7 linked regions of the Homo sapiens genome follow. The gene in region 7 interacts genetically with the main gene of each other region. Each region holds a gene or a part of one and is shown on either strand. Other genes may lie near its edges. The genes, in order: SUPT16H, OGA, MBTD1, CRACD, MYO10, MAP4K4 and ACACA.

Evidence for each region.
Region 1: changes in ACACA (region 7) and SUPT16H together harm fitness more than expected from each alone (negative genetic interaction), as found in Homo sapiens cells (one large-scale study listed by BioGRID).
Region 2: changes in ACACA (region 7) and OGA together harm fitness less than expected from each alone (positive genetic interaction), as found in Homo sapiens cells (one large-scale study listed by BioGRID).
Region 3: changes in ACACA (region 7) and MBTD1 together harm fitness more than expected from each alone (negative genetic interaction), as found in Homo sapiens cells (one large-scale study listed by BioGRID).
Region 4: changes in ACACA (region 7) and CRACD together harm fitness less than expected from each alone (positive genetic interaction), as found in Homo sapiens cells (one large-scale study listed by BioGRID).
Region 5: changes in ACACA (region 7) and MYO10 together harm fitness more than expected from each alone (negative genetic interaction), as found in Homo sapiens cells (one large-scale study listed by BioGRID).
Region 6: changes in ACACA (region 7) and MAP4K4 together harm fitness more than expected from each alone (negative genetic interaction), as found in Homo sapiens cells (one large-scale study listed by BioGRID).

Annotation. Positions count from the first base shown.
Region 1 is NC_000014.9:21,360,020-21,363,519, forward strand, and holds part of SUPT16H (FACT complex subunit SPT16), read right to left. Parts: intron 3,485-3,500; coding exon 3,419-3,484; intron 3,310-3,418; coding exon 3,214-3,309; intron 3,131-3,213; coding exon 3,015-3,130; intron 2,929-3,014; coding exon 2,775-2,928; intron 2,306-2,774; coding exon 2,178-2,305; intron 1,195-2,177; coding exon 1,059-1,194; intron 954-1,058; coding exon 827-953; intron 515-826; coding exon 396-514; intron 1-395. UniProt on the Homo sapiens protein: Component of the FACT complex, a general chromatin factor that acts to reorganize nucleosomes. The FACT complex is involved in multiple processes that require DNA as a template such as mRNA elongation, DNA replication and DNA repair.
Region 2 is NC_000010.11:101,801,445-101,804,944, forward strand, and holds part of OGA (protein O-GlcNAcase), read right to left. Parts: intron 2,576-3,500; coding exon 2,291-2,575; intron 1-2,290.
Region 3 is NC_000017.11:51,190,550-51,194,049, forward strand, and holds part of MBTD1 (MBT domain-containing protein 1), read right to left. Parts: intron 2,962-3,500; coding exon 2,879-2,961; intron 2,468-2,878; coding exon 2,233-2,467; intron 1,732-2,232; coding exon 1,654-1,731; intron 1-1,653. UniProt on the Homo sapiens protein: Chromatin reader component of the NuA4 histone acetyltransferase complex, a multiprotein complex involved in transcriptional activation of select genes principally by acetylation of nucleosomal histones H4 and H2A.
Region 4 is NC_000004.12:56,052,098-56,055,597, forward strand, and holds part of CRACD (capping protein-inhibiting regulator of actin dynamics), read left to right. Parts: intron 1-3,500. UniProt on the Homo sapiens protein: Involved in epithelial cell integrity by acting on the maintenance of the actin cytoskeleton. Positively regulates the actin polymerization, by inhibiting the interaction of actin-capping proteins with actin.
Region 5 is NC_000005.10:16,926,289-16,929,788, forward strand, and holds part of MYO10 (unconventional myosin-X), read right to left. Parts: intron 1-3,500. UniProt on the Homo sapiens protein: Myosins are actin-based motor molecules with ATPase activity. Unconventional myosins serve in intracellular movements. MYO10 binds to actin filaments and actin bundles and functions as a plus end-directed motor.
Region 6 is NC_000002.12:101,868,707-101,872,206, reverse strand, and holds part of MAP4K4 (mitogen-activated protein kinase kinase kinase kinase 4), read right to left. Parts: intron 2,586-3,500; coding exon 2,410-2,585; intron 1,913-2,409; coding exon 1,792-1,912; intron 714-1,791; coding exon 522-713; intron 1-521.
Region 7 is NC_000017.11:37,256,837-37,260,336, forward strand, and holds part of ACACA (acetyl-CoA carboxylase 1), read right to left. Parts: intron 2,695-3,500; coding exon 2,524-2,694; intron 1,538-2,523; coding exon 1,376-1,537; intron 1,031-1,375; coding exon 867-1,030; intron 1-866. UniProt on the Homo sapiens protein: Cytosolic enzyme that catalyzes the carboxylation of acetyl-CoA to malonyl-CoA, the first and rate-limiting step of de novo fatty acid biosynthesis.

The sequences.
Region 1 (3,500 bases), on a different chromosome or scaffold from region 7:
GGTGATTTTTTCATCACTTTTTTGTTTTTTGTTTTTCACACGCTGTCGCCCAGGCTGGAGTACAATGGCGCGATCTCGGCTCACTGCAACTTCCGCCTCCCAGGTTCAAGCAATTTTCCTGCCTCGGCCTCTCAAGTAGCTGGGATTACAGGCGCTGGCCACTACGCCTGGCTAATTTTTGTATTTTTAGTAGAGACGGGGTTTCATCATGTTGGTCAGGCTGGTGTCGAACTCCCGACCTCAGGTGATCCACCCACCTCGGCCTCCCAAAGTGCTGGGATTGTGGGCATGAGCCACCGCGCCCAGCCCTTTCATCACTATTTTATAGGAAAGAAGCTGAGTGAAATGAAGTGTCTTGCCCAAGAGCTGACAGCTAGTTAAGTAGAAAGGTATACCTTGAGGTGAAAGTGCAAGACAATAATCATTTCTCCATCACAGGGCTGGAACAAAGCATGCTTAATATTATTGTACAAAATATCCACTTTGTCTCCTCGAACAGATGTGAAGCGGAAGCCTGGGGAAAAGAATGAAGAAATGTCAAGCAGTATAATTAAGTTAGGCCAAAAGGCACTGCAACTCTTCTGGCTGATTTGCACAGGGTCAGAGGAAACACCAACAGCTGTATAGAGCTTTCCTTTCCTTCTGGCCACACAGCAGTGTAAGTAGATTCCTCCCAGCATTTCCTTGTCATACTTTATTAGCACCATGCTTTAACCAACTGAGCTAACCGGCGGATGGCTCTTTGTCATATTTTATTATCTGATCTGTCATTCCTAACAAATGTGCCCTGAAGAGAAAGCCTAGGTACAGGAGAGATCATCCATACCATTGACATGGGCCTCCAGTGAGCCTTGCATCCTCTTTTGGGCAATATTTGGGCGAATGTATAGATCTTTCAGTTTCGGATTACTCCGGTTTAGATTGATCACCAGTGAGTCTTGTTTTACAATCCCCTAAGCAAGAAGAAAATTAATGTGAATTGTCACATATCCTTACAAGTCTCCAAAAAATACATGTCCTTCTTTGTGTAAGAATGTTTTGCCTGTGTTCAGGCTCACCTCCTTCTCTTTCTCTTCAGCTTCTCGAGTTTTATAACGTTTCTGTACTTCTTTAATAATTCGGAAAGCATTCTGAAGGTTCAAGGCTGGTACTGTCTGTTCTCCGGGTGCCTTAATATTTGATGCTCGGTATGTACTGCAGAAAAGCAACAGCATTTATAGACATTTCTTTTTCAGGCCAGGGAAATTGTACTGATTTACTTTATCTTCTAAGCAGCTTAATCTCTACTTTGCTTTTTTTTTTTTTTTTTTTTTTTGAGACAGGGTGTGCCTCTGTCACCCAGGCTGGAGTGCAGTGGCCCAATCTTAGCTCACTGCAACCTTCGCCTCCTGGGTTCAAGCCATCCTCCCACCTCAGCCTTCCAAGTACCTGGGATTACAGGTACACACCACCATGCCCGGCTAGTTTTTGTATTTTTAGCAGATACAGGGTTTTGCCATGTTGACCAGGCTGGTCTTGAACTCCTGGCCTCATGTAATCTGCCTGCCTCTGCCTCCCGAAGTGCTGGGATTACAGGCGTGAGCCACCATGCATGCCCATTCCTTCTTTTTTCATTTTTCAAATCTGGTATAACATCCCCAAATTATCCCATTTCACACCATGAAATCATAGAATCCAATGTGGCACCAGTTTTCTTATTTGAAGATTCTACTGCAATATATGTTTATTACTTTTAACACTTATTTTCATAATTATTTTTTTTTTGAGACAAGGTCTCGTTCTGTTGCTCAGGCTGGATGGAGTACAGGCAAGATCAGGGCTCACTGCAGCCTCAACCTCCCAGGCTCAAGGAATCCTCTCACCTCAGCCTCCACAGTAGCTGGATGACGGGTGCACACCACCACCCCTGGTTAATTATTTTTTAGAAGAGACAAGGTCTCACTATATTACCCAGGCTCAAAATATGTTTAGTAAATATATAGTATCTTCAAGAAGATTCTAAATTGGGATCCATCCTGAAAATAGTACAAAGTCAAGAAGGCGATCCGAAACAAGTACCAATGAGGAAGGCTTTGACATTTACTAGGTAGGGAAAATGTAGCACAGACAATGAAATGTTTCTGAGAGTACCACTCCAGACAAGATGAATCTGGGTATGACTTTTCTTGGGGACTCACATTTCCTTGACAAAAGTCGCTTCAGGGTTAGGAAAGATGTTGCCTTCATTCCTGCCCAGAGCACTGCCTGGGCAATAAAAGTTGATTCGCAAGTAAGTATAATCTCCTTCCACGGACATACTTATATTCTGTTCAAAGGAAAAGCATAAAAAGTAAACAGATTTCTTTCCTAGAGATTAGTAGTTACAGAGATGTTAAAATTAAGTTAGGAGTTACAAATTGACCGCTCTTAACCTTAATCTAAATCTAATAAATTTACATAATTTATCTTTTTAATAACGAAGTATCCTTTTCCCAAAAAAATCTCTGAATTCTCAAAGTACCTTGTACCATGAATACAACTAAAAGTTAAACAATGATTAAACGAAGTTGAAAGAAAGATAGGCAAATTATGTTTCTAGACTAGTTTAGCTTTCTACTAAGTGAAAAAAACTGAAAGAGGAAGGAGAATGACAAGACAAGAGGGATGTCAGTAACTGAACAGAGTCTGAAGGAGTCAAAAGTGGGAGACATGATGAATGCAGATTATTTATGGCAAATACAATTACTATTTTAAGCAACAGTTTGGATGAAACCTGATGCACTGAATGTCAGTACCTTGATTGTGGCAATGTGAAACGGTGTTGCAATGCCAAACACGGGCATTATTACAGTCTCATATTTCTTATCGATGTAGATCTTCATTTCCCGAATATGTGGTTCCTTAGGCATCAGAGATGGGTTTTTATAGGACACATTAGACTTGCGAGCTCTGGAGTGGGATAAAAAAACAACTGAGAAATTTCTGCAGTCCCACAGAACCCTCAGATGATCTCACTGCTCAGTGAAAACTCTTACTTCTGAATCTGCTGTTCTCCCTTTTGTTCAGTCAATCGCCTCTTTGCTTCTTCATTGAGTTGAGCCGCTAGTTCTTTCTGATGTGCTCTTCGCTTCTCTTCTGCAGTCATTTCATTCTGGTGAATGGAAAATCCAATTTATCACAACACGTGAGCCATATGACAGCCGAGATCAATGTAATTTAAAATAGTAAACTTACTCTTGTTCTTTCTGTAAGTAATGCTGCCCGAGAACCTCTTCCCAAAAGGTCCTCTGCCTCATCTTTCTCCTCCTCCTCTTCTTCCTCATCTTCATTCTATGGAAAAAGTCATAATCAAAAAATGAAATTTTAATTATTTTAGCCAATATTATTTAACTTCTTTATATCCTAAACTTCCTATACTACTTATCTATCTTCTTCCTACCTTTAGGAAAATCCCCACATTCTTCACTTTCTTCTTCACAGAAGTGAGAACAGTAGCTGGGCCATCCTAGAATTAAAAGGAG
Region 2 (3,500 bases), on a different chromosome or scaffold from region 7:
ATAAGGCAACAAAGCTCTGAGCCAGGATAGTGGTAGAGAAAATTAAGTCTGAATTTTTTGATTTTGTACTTAAAAACTCTCTATTCTTAGCTTTCCTTAATATTTCCTACGTATGTCCCAGGTTTGGATAGTGTCTGCCACCCTTAGTATGTTCCTTGCTGTGCCTTAAAAGATGTAGGAGTTAAGTGCCATGTACGCTGACAGCATTTAAATTATATTCCCAATTTGTTTTTTATTGAGGGGAGGAGGATGACAATGACTGAGCCAAACAAAAGGGAGACATTAATTCAATAAACAATTCAAAGCAGAGGTATGGAATTGAGAAACAGATGACAACTATTAATATTACTACATACTATCATGACACTTCAGTAGCCAAAATGGGCCAAAATTCAGGGAACTTCAAAAGTTCAGTGTTCAGGCTGGGCACAGTGGCTCACGCCTGTAATCCCAGAACTCTGGGAGGCAGAGGCAGGCAGATCACCAGGTCAGGAGTTCGAGACCAGCCTGACCAACATGGTGAAACCCTGTCTCTACTAAAACTATAAAAATCAGCCAGATGGGGTGGTGTGCGCCAGTAATCCCAGCTACTCAGGAGGCTGAGGCCAGAGACTCGCTTGAACCAGGGAGGCAGAGGTTGCAATGAGCCAAGATCGCGCCACTGCACTCCAGCCTGGGCAACAGAGCGAGGCTCTGTCTCAAAGAAAAAAAAAAATTTTCAGTGTTCAGTGTTTTTAACCTCCAGCCCACAAACCTTTAACGCCCAGCAAACTCTCCTCATACTTTGATCCAGCTTAAAAGTCTGTGAAATCTCTTAGCAAAAATAATCACTCTCTCCCGTGTTCACACAGCACTTTATAAATTAAACTATTACAACACTTATCACACTATAGTACAATTGCCTATAAGCCTTACCCAACACTAGACTGTTTCTCAAAAGTAGGAATGGCTGGGCGCGATGGCTCACGCCTGTAATCCCAGCACTTTGGGAAGCCCAGGAGGGCGGATCACCTGAGGTCAGGAGTTCAAGACCAGCCTGACATGGAGAAACCCCGTCTCTACTAAAAATACAAAATTAGCCAGGCATGGTGGCGCATGCCTGTAATCCCAGCTACTCGGGAGGCTGAGACAGGAGAATCACTTGAACCTGGGAGGCGGAGGTTGCAGGGAGCTGAGATTGCGCCACTGCACTCCAGCCTGGGCAACAAGAGCAAGACTCCATCTCAAAAAGAAAAAAAAAAAACTACTTTATTCTTTGCCCCCTCAGTGCCCATGAACATGCATCTGCCCCATGACAGATTATTTAAATGTAAATAATTATCAAGCACCTTACTTAGAACTCTATTAATTAGAGATTTTTCATAAATTAAAAATTAGTAAGCCAATGTCTAAAATAAGACTGTATTCCATTCGGCCAGGCAGGGTGGCTCATGCCTGTAATCCCAGCACTCTGGGAGGCCGAGGCAGGTGGATCACCTAAGGTCAGGAGTTCGAGACCAGTCTGGCCAAGATGGTGAAACCCTGTCTCTACTTTAAAAAAAAAAAAAAAAAAAAAAAAAAGCCGGGTGTGCCTGCAATCCCAGCTACTCGGGAGGCTGAGGCTGGAGAATCGCTTGAACCTGGGAAGCAGAGGTTGCAGCGAGCTGAGATTGCGCCACTGCACTCCAGCCTGGGCGATGGAGCAAAACTCCATCTCAAAAAAAAAAAAAAAGAGTATGTTCCATAAAAGATAAATGTAAGCTGAATCTAAATGATCTAAGTGACTCAAGAGTATCTAGTTATCTAAAATATCCTTTTCAATAAAATTGCCTGAAAATACATTTTATCCGAATGATTCTAGAGATAATGGAAACACTTAAAAGACTGTCTCCTCTAGTACTCAGACTTCAAAGACTGAACCATATTTTATTTTTATTTATTTCATAGGATTTTCATCTGTTGTCCAGGCTGGAGTGCATTTCCTGGGATTATAAGCGAGCCACCACGCTGCTTCTGAATCATACTAAAAAAAAAAAAAACAAAAAAAAAAAAACTAAGGCAAAGAGGTTAAGTGACTTGTCCAAAGACACTCAACCTTTCTTCTATCATATACATCTTCATCAACAGAATGAAACAACATACCATAATAAAACCACTTGGTTTTGTTTCCTCCTTAGTAAAACAAAATACGTTTTTAAAAAAATAAATAAAACTGTTTAAGTTGTGATGACAAAGGAATGCATACTTTCCACTGGCTCTAGTTAACCCCAGCTCTCCTCCCAAGGTGAAAGATCAAGTACAGGCTACTTACTCATCACTACATCTTTTCTCACTCCATTCATGTTTGATTTGTACCAGGTGGCAAGGGTGTGGATAGCAACGTAGTTGGCTTCAAATTCACAATTTGGATTAGTGAGGACTCCTTTTAACCGTGGGATGAGTTCTGTGGATCTTCCTTTGTACGGGCCCAGAAACAGTCTCTTCTGATCATAATCATTAGCATGAATGTTATCCCAGATTACTGGAGCTCTCTTAATAATCTTAGAAACCTCTTCGATGGACTCTACTGGAATTTCTTTAGAAACAACTTTGGGACCTAGAAATAACGACAACCGTTCGTTAAAAGAATCATGGTTCTTGGCTAGACGCATTGGCTCATAACTGTAATCCCAGCACTCTGGGAGGCAGAGGTGGGCAGATCATTTGAGCCCAGGAGTTCGGACCAGCCTGGGCAACACAGCGAGACCCTATCTTTTTATTTTAAATTAAAAAATATATTTAAAAAAAAGAATCATGGTTCTTTAAAATATACTGCATATATAACTTTTTATTGTTTTCCTTACGTGTACTTTTTTTTTTTTTTTTTTGAGACAGAGTCTCGCTGTGTCGCCCAGGCTGGAGTACAGTGGTGTGATCTCGGCTCACTGTAAGCTCCGCCTCCTGGATTCACACCATTCTCCTGCTTCAGCCTCCTGAGTAGCTGGGACTACAGGCGCCCTCCACCACGCCTGGCTAATTTTTTGTATTTTTTAGTAGAGATGGGGTTTCACTGTGTTAGCCAGGATGGTCTCGATCTCCTCACCCTGTGATCCGCCTGCCTCGGCCTCCCAAAGTGCTGGGATTACAGGCGTGAGCCACTGCGCCTGGCCCCTTACATGTACATTTTATAACAACGTTTCTTTTTCTGAGACAGGGTCTCCTCTGTTACCCAGGCTGAAGTGCAATGGAGTAATCATGGCTCACTGCAGCCTTGAGCTCCTGAGCTCAAGCAATCCTCTCACCTCAGCCTCCCAAGTAGCTGGGACTACAGGTGTGCCCCACCATGTCACAGTAATTTAAAATTTTTTTGTACAGATAAGGGCTTGCTATGTTGCCCAGGCTAATCTTAAACTCCTGGCCTCAAGCGATCCTCCTACCTCAACTCAAGCCTCCCACAGCACTGGGATTACAGGCACGAACCAATGCACCCAGCCACAATTTTTCTTTTGAAAACACAACATGTCTTTTACTGAGCTTTATTT
Region 3 (3,500 bases), about 14 Mb from region 7:
CCATTTCTATAAAAATATAAAAACGAGTTGGGCATGGTGGTATACTCCTGTAGTCCCAGCTACTCCAGGGGCTGAGGTGGGAGAATTGCTTGTACCCGAGAAGTCGAGGCTGCAGTGAGCCAAGATCATACCACTGCATTCCAGTCTGGGCGACAGACTGAGACTCTGTCTCAAAAAAAAAAAAAAAAAAAAAAAAAAAAAATATATATATATATATATATAACCTTATCTAAGAATGAAATGAAATATGGCCATGTGTGGTGGCTCATGCCTGTAATCCCAGCACTTTGGGAGGCTGAGGTGGGCAGAGTGCTTGAGCCCAAAAGTTTGAGACCAGCCTGGGCAACGTGGCAAGACTCTGTCTCTACAAAAAAATACAAAACTTAGCTGGGTGTGTGGCAACACATGCCTGTGGTCCAAGCTACTCAGGAGGCTGGGGTGGGAGGACTGCTTGAGCCAGGGAAGGTTAAGGCTGTAGTGAGCGGAGATTGTGCCACTGCACTCCATTCCAGCCTGAGCAACAAAGTAAGGCCTTGTCTCAAAAAAGAATGAAACATTCTATGACAAGTTTTATGAAGAGAGAAAGCTATGGCTTTCTATGGTGGGGAAATAAGATAAAAAAAATCAAACATAGTTATCAATATATTTTATATTACTTTGGCTTATGCCAACAATTCACTGTAAGGTAAAATATAGTATAGAAAGAATTTCTTTTTTTTTTTTTTTTTCGAGATGGAGTTTTGCTCTTGTTGCCCAGGCTAGAGTGCAATGGCACGATCTCGGCTCACCTCAACCTCCGCCTCCTGGGTTCAAGCAATTCTCCTGCCTCAGCCTCCCAAGTAGCTGGGATTACAGGCGTGCACCACCACACCCGGCTAATTTTTTAGTATAGAAAGCATTTCTAGAAAAATTTGGTAAAGCTTGTTTGCCATCAACTTGGATTTCTTACCAGTATCACTCTAGAAAGTTTTGCTTTCTAGGAAAAATGGGTTTATTAGGCTTCACATCTACTGTAAGCATCAAGCATCTGCTAATTTTTTTTTTTTTTTTTGAGACAGAGTCTTGCTGTGTTGCCCAGCTGGAATGTAGTGGCGTGATCTTGGCTCACTGCAACCTCTGCCTCCTGGGTTCAAGTGATTCTCTTGCCTCAGCCTCCTGAGTAGCTGGGACTTCAGGCGTGTGCCACCACGCCCGGCAGATTTTTTGTATTTTTGGTGGAGACAGGGTTTCACCGTGTTAGCCAGGATGGTCTCGATCTCCTGACCTTGTGATCTGCCAGCCTCGGCCTCCTAAAGTGCTGGGATTACAGGCGTGAGCCACTGCACCTGGCTGCTAATTTTTCTTTTTAAATAAAGTTTTTAAAAAGGATTAACTTTCAGTAGGTTTTACATATTATTTCAAGAATCATTCACAGACTCTATTCTTTACCACGTATACTTTAAATACTGTGGTAATAATTTCTCCTGTTAGTAAAATATCAGTGTTTCTCATTATTGCAAGGGTTTGCCTTTTATGGCATACTGCACCTTTAAGCATAATACATAATGCACAATCATCAGTTCTCACAAGATATATCATTTTCTGTCCAAGAATACTGTGACTCCAATTAGTTAACAATTAGAAAATGTATGTGAACACCACGTGGTGACCCACTTTTCTTATGTCCTTTGTATTGCTGGGACTTAGCCTTTTTCTTCTGTTTTGATGAAGCTGATTGGTTTTCTCTTGATGCTGAAAAATAAAAAGGGAAAATTGGTACTAGATAATTGTTTACAATTTAGACGATACAGTTGTCTAGATACAACTTATATGAACTATCTTTACCAAGACCATTATACTTAAGTACATGATGCTCTGAAAATAAGGGTACTTGTTCCTACAAAACCATAGCCTCAACATGAGACATTTTCCACTATTTACTCAAAAGCATTTATTACCTACCAATAAACTTTTAGTATGTAATTTTTAACTCACTAAAATAGTAAGTCTAGTTTAATTTGGTGACTGTTGTGTTTCTATAGTCATTATGTAATTGACTATTGGATTCACATTGCCATGGGACACATGGTCTGATTCTGTGATATTGTTGTTGAGTCTTAATGTCTTACCTGGCAACCAATCAGACATAGGTATATTCTTGTCCTGTGAGCTCATAAGATGACTTATGTGAGATAGTCCTCTGGAGAATTGCTGATTTTTACAAAAGGACACCTTTTCTGTATACCAACTTACACTGTGATGCTGGAGGCTGTAGTTGATATCCAGTTAACTGACACCACCCTACAGGATAGAGGTCAGGTGACTCACAGTCTACCCACTGATCATACTCTTCTTCCCATCCATCAAAATGTATCCTCAAGAGACGATGAATAATTCGAGTTACTGTGGCTACACATATTAAACGTGGCTCCATGAGATCTACTGCTTCTAATTTCATTCCTACACGAAATCCGTGATTTGGAACATCCTGACACAGAGAAGAAAACATTAATATTGGTATGAAGAAGAAAGAATGCACAACCCTACTATCACTAAGAAAGCAAAAAACAGAAGCGACTAGCTAAATAACATAATTATAAACCATAAATTCCAAATAATTCTTTAACTATTTAAACATAGTACGAAGGTGAAGTATTTAAAAACTAGTTAGGAAAAATCTTCATTTCTATTTCCTTCAGATTAAAAACGAAACATAGTTTGGAAACAAGTTTTGATTCCTAGGTAAAGAAAATATTTATATTGTTTCATTGCTATATTTGTTTATATTATATCTCCACTAAGAAATTCTAATACAAGGCAAAGACATTTTTATGAACATAAATTGTATTTGTGGGGCATTAATAAGTCCTCACATAATTATGCTGCCATTTAAATTTACCTTATTAAATAGTTTTACTGGTGCTGCAATGGAGCCAGTTTCCCTGAGGTAGTCAAACCATTTAAAAGGAAGTTTTGTGTAACCTAAAAAACACAACTGGTTTAACTAGCAGTTCATTTAAAATTAGCATAATATTAAAATGCAGACAAAAAGTAACAGTACAAAAAATCTTAAGAGCATAGGTTATATGATCAACTTTATTTTTTTTGAGACAGGGTCTTGCTCTGTCGCCCAGGCTGGAGTGCAGTAGTGCCCTCAAAGGCTTACTGCAGCCTCAACCTCCAGGGCTCAAGTGATCCTCCTGCCTTAGCCTCTCTAGTAGCTGGGACTACAGGCACATGCCACTGTGACAGGCTAATTTTTTGTTGTTTTTAGTAGAGACAGGGTCTCCCTATGTTGCCCGGGTTGTTCTCAAACTCCTGGTCTCAAGCAATCCTCCTACCTGAGTCTCCCAAAGTGCTGGGATTATTGGCGTGAGCCACTGCACCTGGCCTATATGATTTATACTGCTGAGTGCAATAATTCCTCCATGTTACACAGATTTCCCTCCCCTCTCTAGAAACACTGGTGTGCCTACTTAGTCTAACGCAAAAGTGGCTCTCTTTTTCTGTTTACTACAATG
Region 4 (3,500 bases), on a different chromosome or scaffold from region 7:
TCACTGTGTTGCCCAGGCTGGTCTCAAGCAATCCTCCTGCCTTGGCCTCCCAAAATACTAGGATTACAGGCATGAACCACTGCGCCCAGCCTAAACTTTTATTTTTGCACAGTAAGAGATGCATTTTACTTTGCCACCCAGTATACAGATACATTGTAAATATCTGTAATTAAAAAATTCATGAAGTAATGCTTAGACTTTGAATGTGCAATGCATTCTTATATTTTTTATTCTATTTTATTTAAAAAATGTTGGTTGAGATCGCTAAATGATTTCACATCCCATTAATGGGTCAGGAACTACGCTTTGAAAAGCACTAATGCTAAGGATAATCAGGTTAAGTGCATTTAAGAAAGCTGTTGTTGAATCTTTATTTCTTTTCTTCAAATGGTTTACAACATCAATTGGAGTTTGAATACTAAATTACATTTAAAAATAAGTTCTTAAACATTTCTTGGGAATTACCATCATTTATTGAATATTTCTCATGGTCACGTTACTGTGTGCTAAGTAGTCTATTTATATATGTTATCTAATTTAGTTCTCACAACAGCCCTGTAAGTAGGCCTTGTGTTTACATTTGATAATTGAAATTAAGACTCAGAGAGCTTTTTATTAACTTGCCCAAGGTCCTAAATTTAGAGAGGGATGAAGCAAAGATTCAAACTGAGTTCTCTCTGATCCCAAAGCCTGTCTGCCCTCTTAACCCCCATGGTTTTCTGATGTTCCCTCATAGTGATTTCTGAAGATGTTTCATTTCTTCCTTAACATAAATTTGAATGTCGATATTGAGAATTTACCCATTGTGGTACATCTTTTGTAGTTTCCTTTGAAATGACTCATTTCAAGTCAGTTTTCAACTTAGGGAAGTTAAGGAAGCATAACGTAATTCTTTCTGGCTTTAGCTGGTCTTTGATGTAAATATTTTGTAAGAGCTTCTCAGGTTTTTGTGATAGAGTCAATTAATTGGTCATTTTTATTGAGCATCCAAAGGTTTAATATATCTTCCTAAGAGACATGAAATAGCTGTGTAACTATAAAAAGACTTCATTACGAATGAATGTCGGCTTTTGTTAAGGCACAAAATGAAGCCTTACAAGCTACAAAAGAGTACTTCATAGTGTATTGATTGGTCTTAAAATCACAAGGTGCTAAAAGTATTTACTTTGTAAAGTACTTTAAGAAACCACCACCAAGTATCCTATTAGCGTTTTTTGTTTTTTGGTTTTTCAGTTCTTTACACGTTTCCTATGTGTATTTGTAGCAGTATTTTAATTTTAATATTTTGATATTTCTAGGACTTCCCTCTTTGAAACACATTGTCAGGAAGAATTAAGGCGTTTTTCAGGAAATATATTTTATAAATAATACTTAGAATACACAAATAGATGCTTTTATATAATAAAGGCAAATTTCACTTTTTTTTTACATTTATATCTTCTACATTAAAACACCTATGGTGTCTGGTTTGCATTATTGCTATTATATGTAGGAGTGTAACTCATAAATAACATGATTACCAGGTGCCTAAAAATGTATAAATATGCCACTGCTCTTGCATTATAGCTTTGGATACTCCTGTGTGCATGAGGCTTTAAACTTTTAACCATATATTTAAACAGTTTATTTGTTGAATTAAGGTTAGTGTTTTCAAAGCTGACAATTTAAAAATCTGAATTTGTGTAGATCATGATGATATGTTAGACAAAGAACAGTAGTTTCATGGTTTATTTATGTGGTTTGAGTAGCCATATATTTCTGTTCATCAGTCTTTTTAAATTAAGATTTGATGTAAACAAATATAGATATAATTGCATTTATTTTTGAACATCAGATTTCATCCTTAGGCTGGCCCTCAAAATATACTTTGCAGCTAATGAAATTGTGTAAAGTTGCAGCAAGCCTGTGTTTTATGCGTATTTATTAATTCTGTCTACTACTTGACCCTTAGTGGATTGTTACAGTTTTTGTGAGCATCAGGACATGGCCCACTTATTGGGTGGTCATTGTAATTTGTATGTTCAGGCAGATACAAAACTTGGCTACCTTTACATTTTGTGTCCTGTTTATTCTTTTATTCATTTATGTTTTTATTTATGTATTTCTAGGGTCTTGCTCTGTCACCCAGGCTGGAGTGCAGTGATGTAACCATGGCTCACTGCAGCCTCTACCTCCTGGGCTCAAGTGATCCTCCTAGCTCAGCCTCCTGAATAGCTGGGACCATAGGCGCATGCCACCACATCTGGTTAATTATTTTTTGTAGAGATGTGGTCTCTCTCTGTTTCCTAGGCTGGTCATGAACTCTTGGGCTCAAGTGATCTACCTGCCTTGCCTCAGCCTCCCAAAGTGCTGGGATTACAAGCGTGAGCCGCCACTCAGTGGCTCCTTTTTATCCTGATGTGAAAATTCATAGAGATAAGAACGAAATCAATTTAGATATTAATTTATTCTGGTGGCTTTAAGGCAGATGCATATGCATATTTTAGGTTTACATAGATGTATGATTTTCACACATATATGAGAAGTACCAGATTATAAACTCTTCTCTAAAGTAAAGAAATACATATTAAGTAACTTTGTGGAAATAAAAAAACTGAGTAACAACCCTGAAGAGATGTTTTTATAGTCACATGTTGTCAGCCTTATAGTCACATGTTATCAGACATATTTAAGAAGCCAAATAGAACAACCATATGTAAAAGCTTTTATATGTGAAAAAGTGATACCATTTAAAATGTCAGAAATGGAAACATAAATATTTCAGTCAGATTTTTAAAGTCTTCACCAGGTCTTTCAGATGTTTCCAGTGTTTTTCAAGTGGCGTACTTAGGGGATTGAGAAGAAATGTCGAAAAACTTGCTTTTGAAACTGGTACTGTATTCAATATGAATTGAGGAAAAGACACAGAAGCTGCATCCCTGAAACACTTTAAAAAATATTTAAATCAGAAGTAAATTTAGCCCACTAGAAACGGTTGTTAGAATAGAGTTTAAGAGCAGGTAGCAGCTGCTAAGAGGAATTAGAAAAAGGAAGGACAAGTTGCTAAAAAGGCATTTTGTTTTTACCAGGGAAGGTAAGAACGATCTTATCTGGAGGCTCACTGGCCTCACCCCACTCACCTGGGGAGGGATTGGCTGGCAAGAAGGAAGATAAGGAGACAGGGAGCGGGAAACAGGTTGTCTGAAAACTTGATTATTATTTAAATCTAGGATAAGCCGGATTCAAGGAATAATCAGCGAAAATTCTTGTATATAATTGTTAACCCCTTGTTAACAATGGGCTGTTTCCTCACTTGGGAGAAATAAAAAGGAGAGGCCATAGTCCCAAGATCACCATTTGTGAAAGAGGAAACATTACTCCAAACCCCATTGCCAATACCATTTATGGTCTCGGGTGGGGGCCACAGCTCATGTTCTTAGGGAAGATTGTGACAGATCCAGCAGGGCTGTTAAGACACTGCTGGTGAATTCCAGGCTGCCCTAAATGATTGCAGTCAGGAT
Region 5 (3,500 bases), on a different chromosome or scaffold from region 7:
TATCATATGCAATCTCATTCTTTTTTTAATCTAAATAGTGCTGTATGAATTTCGCTGACAATGTCAGTAACTACTGTCCTGCCTCAGCAAAGCAGGCCATCTCTAGACTTAGATTAAGAAAAGAACAATCTGGCCAGGTGGGGTGGCTCACGCCTGTAATCCCAGAACTTCCGGAGGCCAAGGCTAGTGGATCAATTGAGGTCACAAGCTTCAGATCAGCCTGGCCAACATGATGAAACCCCGTCTCTACTGTAAATACAAAAATTAGCCAGGCATGGTGGCACACACTTGTAATCCCAGCTACGTGGGAGGCTGAGGCAGAAGGATTGCTTGAACTCGGGAGGTGGAGGTTGCAGTGAGCCAAAATTGCGCCACTACACTCCAGCCTGGGCGAAAGAGGAAGACTCTGTCCCAGCAAAAAAAAAAAAAAGAACAATCTAAGAACCACAAAGAAAGGTTCTCCACCTTGGTATTACTGTCCGTAAAACAAACTATTGTGACAATCTTGACTCTAACCACATAACAAGTGAGTTTGCTAAAATATGGACAAAAAAATAGATTTATGAAAAATATACTATGGAGTATACGTATTTATTACTCATGAAACATCAACAGAACACCCAGACATAGGCAACTGTAATTAAATTCACTCATGTTTGATATTTTGCTGACTTTCAGCAATAAAACCCATAGCTTTAAACATGTTTGTTGATTCTGCCCTAATGACAGATGTATTTGTCCAGGCAGAGTAGAAGCCATTTTATTTACCAATTTGTAAGCATGGTTTATAACTTTTAAATGTTTAGGTATGTGATATGGGAACTGAATTTGTACTCTTGCCTCTGGCCCCACAAATGATATTTAAAGCTTTTCTCAATCAACTCTTCAGTGAAAAACATTACAGGTGTGTTTTATCAGAAACATATATATGAAGGCATAAAAAAAAAGTCTCAATGCATCTACCACAAACATGAAGAGCCACACCATGGGAGCTTCTTTGTGTCTTCTGCTTATGGTATTTTCTTTTGTTTGTTTGTTTATTTATTTATTTATTGAGATGGAGTCTTGCTCTGTTGCCCAGGCTGGAGTGCAGTGGCACAATCTCGGCTCACTGGAAGCTCCGCCTCCCAGGTTCATGCCATTCTCCTGCCTCATCCTCCCGAGTAGCTGGGACTACAGGTGCCAGCCACCACGCCCAGCTAGTTTTTTGTATTTTTAGTAGAGACGGGGTTTCACCATGTTAGCCAGGATGGTCTGGATCTCCTGACCTCGTGATCCTCCTGCCTCGGCCTCCCAAAGTGCTGAGATTACAGGCTTGAGCCACCGCGCCCGGCCTTTAACTGCCGTAATTTAAAATGCTTTTATACGGAGGCAATTTTAATCCTTAAGAGCAGGCAGGGAGTCGGACTGGGTGAAGGTAGAGCTATTAGTTGGACAATTCCCATATGTTTCTCCCTTGTTCTAGCTGTATTTCAACAGATGTGTTGTGGCTTTGTCCCCAAAACTCTAATGTCTTTTCCTGTAACTGGCAGCATTAGATGACATGATGTCATGTGACATGAGGTGCTAGATTTACTTTAGGCCTGGTGGAAATATTTTCTGAACACCTCTTAGCAAGGCAGCAAAATGTTTTATTCAAGGAATGCTCTTGGGAAAACGACCCAATGTCCTGTCAATAACTGTTCCATGGGTATCGATAAGCTAACAAGCAAATGATAGGTGATATGAAGAAACTCCAACAAAGCACTCAGAATCTTTAACTGAAAAAGAAGATTCTATCAAAAAACCTCAAGTAACACTTCACTAATTAATTGACAGCTGGAATTAGGGAAACAAATGAGTCCCACATTTTCTTTTAATAAACACTTCTCAAATCATCTTGTTTTCTAAGTGCTTTATTTTGTTTTAATATTTTTATTATTACTATTACAATTTTGGAGACAGTCTCCCTCTGTCACCCAGGCTGGAGTGCAGTGGCTCACCGTAATCTTCACCTCCCGGATTCAACCGATTCTCCTGCCTCAGCCTTCCAAGTAGTTGCGATTACAGGCCCATGTCACCACGCCCAGCTAATTTTTGGATTTTATTAGAGACAGGGTTTCACTATGTTGCCCAGGCTGGTCTCGAACTCCTGACCTCAGGTATCCACCTGCCTCGGCCTCCCAAAGTGCTGGGATTACAGGCATGAGCACATGGCCCTAAGTGCTTTAGTATGTAAACCTTCCTACTATCCTCATGAAGTTGGGACAACCAGCTTTAGAAACCACACTTTATGGGCCGGGCATGACGGCTCACACCTGTAATCCCAGCACTTTGGGAGGCTGTGACGGGTGGATCACAAGGTCTGGAAATCGAGACCATTCTGGCCAACAAGGTGAAACCCCATCTCTACTAAAAATATCAAAAATTAGCCGGGTGTGGTGGCAGGCGCCTGTAGTCCCAGCTACTTGGGAGGCTAAGGCAGGAGAATCGCTTGAACCTGGGAGGTGGAGGTTGCAGTGAGCCGAGATCACACCATTGCACTCCAGCCTGGGCGACAGAGCAAGACTCCATCTCAAAAAACAACAACAACAACAAAAACACACACACACATTTTTAGAAGGAAACAGAAGGCGCTTGGCTTTCCCAAAAAAAGCAAATCAAATAAAAATTAGTGGCATGTTTTTTTTTTGGTTTTTTTTTGAGACGGAGTCTTGCTCTGTCGCCCAGGCTGGAGTGCAGTGGCGCGATCTCAGCTCACTGCAAGCTCCGCCTCCTGGGTTCACGCCCTTCTCCTGCCTCAGCCTCCCGAGTAGCTGGGACTACAGGTGCCCGCCACCATGCCCGGCTCATTTTTTGTATTTTTAGTAGAGATGGGGGTTTCACCGTGTTAGCCAGGATGGTCTCCATCTCCTGACCTCGTGATCCGCCCACCTCGGCCTCCCAAAGTGCTGGGATTACAGGCATGAGCCACTGCACCCGGCCAAATCAGTGGCATGTTCAAAAGCTGATGAACATTTTCCTGCGGAGTTTTCAACATTTCTAGGGTGTGGACTACTTGTTTTCCTAAACTCCCATGCAGTTTTCCACTTGAAAATCATTTAATAACTGCCCACTTTTAGGGCATTTCATCAGAGAGCCTAGAGAAGATGACGCAAGTTTAAGGCAAAGGACATCAACAGGACAGAAAAGCATGGCAGTGAAGAACTCTCTGTGGCTCTGGACACAGCCTGTCTGGGTTCAAATCCTGGCTATCGTTTTCTAGCTGTGTGACACTGAGTCAGTTACTTAACCTCTCTGTGCCTCACTTTCTTCATCTATGGATTGGGTATAATTATAGAGCCTTTCCCATAGGGTTGTTCAAGGGATTAAATGAGTCACTAAATGTGAAGTGCCAGCAACATGCCTGGCACATGGTAAGTACAGTTGTCCCTATGTATCTATAGGGAACTGGTTCCAAGACCTTCCCCAGATACCAAAATCCATGGGGAAAAGTCTACATGTTCAGTACAGATGCAATT
Region 6 (3,500 bases), on a different chromosome or scaffold from region 7:
AGAGTAATCAGCCAACAACCCACCCCCCAAACAAGAAAAAAAAAAAAAATCAGTTCTGTTTGAAAGAGATTCCTGTACAGGATAATAAGTTTGTCCAGATAAGGCCAAGCCTGCTGAACCGAATCTTCCTATATTTTATTTATTGGATAAAAAGAATGAAAAAGGCAGATTCCACAAATGACTATAAGAATTTCATGCCAAATACATAATACCGGTCTGAGGACAGAGCAATCATTTTATTTAGATTTTTAAAAAATAAACTAGATAAAGCCATGCAACTATACTTATCTACAGAACAGTAAACAGTGAACTGGCAAGTTTGGGGGAGCTGATCTAGGGTTAAGGGGTTTATATGCAGATCTGAAACATGTTACTTGGGGTTGGGGAGAAGGGTAGGTGACAGAGAAAGCAGGGTGGGAAGGGAAGGGGTGAGGGTGTTGGAAAGGTCTCCTTTGCAAACTAACTCCTAGGCAGTGCTGGTCTAACCCCAGGAAAGCAGCCAGCTGTGGTGCGAGACATACCTCATTAGCAGTGAGCTTGTCCTGGGGTGTCTGTGGGGACATGGTGGGTGTCGGCTGGCTGGAGGATGGGGAGGAGGAGGTGGAGGAAGTGGAGGAGGAATGGCTTTGCTGTAAGAGATCTGGCAAGAGGTGAATGCGACCGGCAAAGCCATTGCTCTCATGATGGCTGGCACGCTTTTGGTCAACTGTACTCTGTAGAAAAAACAGGCACACTTGTCTCGCTCAAGCGCTGCTAAAATTGCCTATGGCCCTATTGATAACTGCTTTAAGGTGCTGTGTGACTTATAAACTCTGCTAAATTACCAAGGAAAAACCAAAGAAATTAGCCTGAACTGCTCACACTTCCTCACCAAATGCCTAACTTGTGCCAACAGAATTCAAAGTACCTAATCTGGTGGCTGCACGGCTCGAGCAGTGAGTGTTTAATCTGGTTTATCTGTTGCGCTAGCTTCTGTTACCAAAACCAGTATCCTTTTTTTTTTCTTTTTAAATCTTTCTTTGCAAAGCTCCAGAAAGTACCTGTGGATTCTCTGAATCCTGGTCTTTTCCACATTCTTCCTACTTTCCATCCGAATGCATTGCCATAGCATGAAACACACTTAGGGCAAAGTCCAAAATACTAAATAGGTGCCCTGTTCTATTTAAATGAGAAGCGTATCACTTTAATTAAGTCTAAGCTAAGAAATGAACAGACAGTTATAAAGCTTAGTGATCCAAACTGAGCATATCTGGGTGGCACACATTTAATTATTCAACAAGTGAGAAAACTAACATTTTGGAACATAGAAGAGAAACCTCCCGAACCCTTCTGCTCTCCGAGTCTCTGGGCCTGTGATGAGGCTCGTCCTGCCTGCCTCACCCGCTCCCACTGTGGCACTGCAGACACTCAGAGCCCAGCGTGCTCTGCAGAGCCATGGTGGCTGCTCTGCCAGACTCCAGACCTGCTTCCTCACTCTGTGAGCCTGTTTAAGGACTCCCTGTGGCTTCTCTCCCGCTCAGACATAGACTGTGAGACTCAGCGCGGTGCTTGAATGAGGGCTGCCGCAGACATGCAGAGGAGCAGCGATGTGGGGTGGAGACTACTCGCTACCTTCTGGGCATGCAGTACACACCTGCCTCCCTAGCCCCCGACACTCGACACTTGACCCTCTGGGACTTGTTAACATGAAAACAGATGATGATGGAGAAACAGCATGAGTGAGTGAATGAGCAAGTGGGTTAATGACCACAGGAGAAGCTCAGCCTCTGACAACAGAGAAGACACGGGTACCTGGCGGACGATTAGAGTGCCCTCCTTGGATGGGGTCATGGCCGGCTCACTTTCTACATCATCATGGACAATCATGGTTTTCACAGATTCCGTTTCACCATTGCTCAAATTCAGAGATGACCTATGGAGAAAAAATCCAGACGTGAAAGGCCTTAATCTCTGGAGTCAAGGAGATCCTGTTTAGGCTTTTCGCCTTCTCAAAATCAAAACATGAGATGAGGCTACCGATATAAAGCCTCCTCCAAAAAAGCAACTGCTTAGCTTTCTCCCTTTAACAAAGAATTTCTTTCCAGTGCCATTTGTTTCTGAGCAAAAACTTAGAATGAATAATTATGGCTAATTAAAGTAGTTATACCAAACTGAAATTTCCCCTGGATCATATATCCTCAAATCAAAAGGAAAAAATAAAGTACACGCTGGGGTGCTGGGGGAAGCACTGACATATGCACACACCAACGAAGAGAAGGGGAAACACAAGGCGACCTGCTGCTGAATCCACGAGAACTACATAGTAAGTGCTCATGGGGTCACGGAATAGTCTAGGAACAACTAGGTCCCAGTGGAAAGCAGGCTCTGAGAGAATACTCTCATCCGCTCTAAAAGAGACCGGGGACTGACGCTGCTCTGGTGTCCTCTGGTCCTGAGGTGGACTCGTCAGCCCCTTCCTGCTCCACATCGTCGTCCTCCTCATCCGTCGTCCCCGACTCCTCACTGGATGAGGAGTAGTCCGTTACTTTGTGAGGTGGCCGTACATCTTCCACTGCTCGAAGCTCTTTGGCCAGTGCGGTCAGATCCTAAAGCAAAGGACAGAAAAGAGAGAGTAAGGCAAGCAGGAGCAGGGACAGGAGAAGATGAGAAGTTCTTTAACCATAAATTGCCACAATGTCAGTTTTGTAAGACTTTTATAGTTACCCAGTTTCATGAGAAAGTGAGCTCCTATGGCTTTTGATAGAAAAGACCAAATAAAGTCAAGAGAGAGATTAAAAAAAAAAAATAGAAGACACCAAAAAAAAGTCAAAGATGTCATATACAGTTCAAATCCCATGACAATAAAAAAAAGATCTGCTTATGTTAAGCTGATAGTATTACTGTTGTTTTTTAATATGAGGTAAAATTCTAGATCAACAAATGTATATACACAGACTCTTGGACTTTGTTGTAAGGAGATCTCCCTACATGACAAAGTCTTCTTTAGACTCATAAAAAAGGTTTTGAGAGACACATTTTTATTTTACTTCAACTTTTATTATTAAAAACTTCAAAGCGCTAAGGTTTAATATTTAATGTTTTTATTTACTAGTTATAGGATATTTATGAAATTTTAGTAATAAATATTAATATTTTACTAAAATCAACATTTTAGGTTTAATATTTTATTAATAAAAGTTGTAGAAACATAACTTCCCTCCCAAAACTCTTTAAATCAGGCTTATTTAACTAGAGGCTTGCTTTCTGGACTGACCCCTTTAAAGAAGACTTTGTCATATAGACATGTGTCTTTACACCAAAGCTCAAGGATCTGTGTATATACATTTGTTGATCTAGAATTTTACCTCATACTGAAAAAAAAAAAACTTCAAACCTACATTAAAATGAAAGGAGTGAAGTGAGCACTAGGATGCCACTGACATCTCACTTCACCGACTGTTCACAACCTGCCACATTCATGGACAAGTCTGTGACACATGAAGAGACACTGCGACCCTGAG
Region 7 (3,500 bases):
CTATTTATTAGTAATTAATACTAATAAACACTTATTAATTACCTACTCCATGTACAGTACAAAGGTAAAGGGAATGGTATTAAATGTTTGATACAAGGCAATAAACCATTAAAAAACAGAAAAGAACTAGTTCAAGTTTCAATTTTAGATAGATATTCCAAAAGATCTAAGCTGTTAAAATTACCTCCTTCAGCCCTATGTTTTAGGCAAGCAAAAGTGCTGTTAATTTAATATTCATTGTTTATGATTAACAGAATATTATCTAACATTTATGATATAGCAGTTATATTTGCATAAGCTGTTATATACAGCATGCTAAGGTCTCTTGTATTAGCAATGTAGACAGTTTCTTTATGTCCTTTTCATAATATGAGCAGTATAATTTTATTATTTTAAATAACTATAAGAGTACATCATGGTGACTATGGCTCATAACAATAGATTGTGTACTTGAAAATTGCTAATAGATTTTAAGTCTTCTCACAAGAAAAAAATAAAATAAAAGTCTATGATTTATTTGATACCTAGTTCTTGGCCAAGAATCTACCTCCCCTCAATAACAATACTGTTCCTGTGGAAAAATAAGATACCTTTAAAGCAATCAATTTTATACATTTATCAAAAATATTTGAAAGGAAAAATACTTCAAAAGGCTCAGAACAACAAACAGAAAAACATCTGCCAAGCACTGCATAATTTAATACAACATGAATGCAAGTGTAATTAAAGATATTCAAAATTTCTTCAAAAAGGTTGTTCATATTATTACTTTGACAGCAGATGATTCCTATTCCCATGCTCACACCTTCACTTAAGATTAGCACAAATTTATTTTGTAAAATGCAATCAAATGCTATTATACTCACGAAATTGCCTCTTCTCTGTTTTCTCCCCAAGAAAAGCAGTGACCAAACTGAGAATCAGCAAATTCATGAAGTCCCCCTGCAGCAGCAACACTGAAATATCCCCAAACATTCTTATTGCTGCGGAAATTTAGCTCCTGAACTGTTCCTGAGCTGGGCTTAAAACCCTGTTAGAGAATAAAGAATGAGAGACCATATTATGTTTCGAAGGAAGAGAAGATTTATATATTCATTGTTTAAGTTCTCTGTTAATCACACACAGAAGCAGAGAAGACACACAAAAATGATAAAGGCCAAGACCCAGTGCCACAGACCCACTGAAGACTCTACAGTGACTTAAGTGGGATTAAGTAACCAATGAAGCAACAACCATTTACTTATCTGCTCTGAGAAACCTCTATGTTTCCCACTCCAGAGGAAGTCCCAAGATATTTCAGAAGTATACTTTCAGATACTATCTTAACATTAAAGTTCATTAAAAGGAGGTATAAACCTTTTAAGTGATGGGTTACCTCATCTGGATTTTCACTAGTGATCCGAGCAGCAATAACATGGCCCCTTGGACAAGGAACGTGTGCAGAATCTTCAAAATCAATGGGAGAATCACCCCAGGGAGATACCCCATACATCATACGGATATCCTTGATTCTATATAGAGGAATCCCCATGGCAATCTGAAAGGTAATAAAACACACATCTTTAATTTTTCAGTTACTTCCCTTAAAGTGTAGAGGCTATCAGATAACCTAAAATATTTTTATTTTTGGAGCCACTCCCTAAAACATTCTATTTTTATAACCTGTATTCTACAATCATCAACTCTAAGTTGCTTGAAATACAATATATCACTACAGATAAGTAGTTAGAATATTCTCCACTTCTAAAGAAGTCCCCACATTCCTAATGCAACAGACACCAGTTCCCCTGTTGTCATTTCTCCATCACGTAATAAGAATGAAAATATCCAACAGAGGAGTAAATGTTAATAGCCATCCAAAAACAGACAGCTAGAAAGTCTTAATTGTGTCATAATTATCTCTTCCATCCCTGCAAACCACTGGAGGAAGTAAGTAAATCTTTAGTCTTTAATAGGAACCCAGAAGGTGTTCTCGATGTGGGCAAATGTTAGATAAAAATAATATCAAGCCTTATCATTAACTATTACTGCTTTCCATAATATTTGTTTCCTGGGCTGAGAGAAGACAATAATATTGACAGCAAGCACTTTACAAATTATAAAAATATATGTGTGCTACCACACTCTTGTAAGGAAAAACTTCAACCACTAATCTCTGATGCAGAATTATTTCAATAAAGAACACTAGTAAAAAAACAAAAATGAGTAGGGAATAATTATAATACAAAGTTGTGAAGTTTACTATAGCTAAATAATTGAATAAAGCATACATTATTAACATTTATTTCTAAAACATGACACATTATATCAGATGTGTCTGGCTAGAAAAAATAACATTCCTATGTCTGTACTACATCAGGAAAACCAAACCACACATGCATAACACATACAGGGTGAAAGAGAAATGACCATTAGGTGTGACTCAGATAGGAGGTGCTTTTCTCTTATCACACACTGGTTAAACCCATTTTTCAGGCCTCTCTGACTTTTCTAGGCTCTGCAACCCAGATCAGGGAGACTCACCTGGAGCTGTGCTGCAGGGAGATTGACATCAGCCACCATCTCTGTACAAGGGTGCTCTACCTGCAGCCGAGGATTCAATTCCAGAAAGTAGAAGCTGCCATCCTGGCTGTACAGGTATTCCACAGTCCCAGCACTCACATAACCCACCATTTTGGCAAGTTTCACCGCACACTCAAAGAAGAGAGATAAGCAAACATAAGTATCTCACCTTATCCAACTGCTAGACCACTACAGCCTCTCACTGACTCAACTGTTCAGTGTGTATAAGAGCCATCAAAAGCTTTTAGCCACATGAGAGCACATTTCTGATTATTATACAATATCCCTGGACAAGGATGAAAAACTCAATGAAAAATCGGGAGAAAAGAGCATTTTTCACTTTGCATCAAAAGCAACCTCACCCCACCAGACATAAATGCATGCAGACAAAAAAACATGGGGACAGACTCTTGTCCAGTTTCCAGTATTTCCAATATGCTCCTCTTCTTCCTAGAAACATAGCTAACTAGTTAGAGACTAGATTTTTTTTTTTTTTTTTGAGACAGAGTCTCACTCTGTCTCCTGGGCTGGAGTCCAGTGGCACAATCTCGTGGCTCACTGCAAACTCTGCCTCCCGGGTTCAAGTGATTCTCCTGCCTCAGCCCCCCAAGTAGCTGAGATTACAGGCATGCGCCACCATGCCTGGCTAATTTTTGTATTTTTGGTAGAGATGGGGTTTCCCCATGTTGGCCAGCCTGGTCTCAAACTCCTGACCTCAAGTGATCTACTCGCCTTGGCCTACCAAAGTGCTGGGATTACAGGCGTGAGCCACCATGCCTGGCCTGGTTAGTGGCTAAGTTTTGACAAACAGGACACCAGCATTGGTAAGTGATATGCATAACTCCCAAGTCATATATATATATATATATATATATATATATATATATATATATATATATTTTTTTTTTTTTTTTTTTTGGAGATGGAGTCTCGCTTTG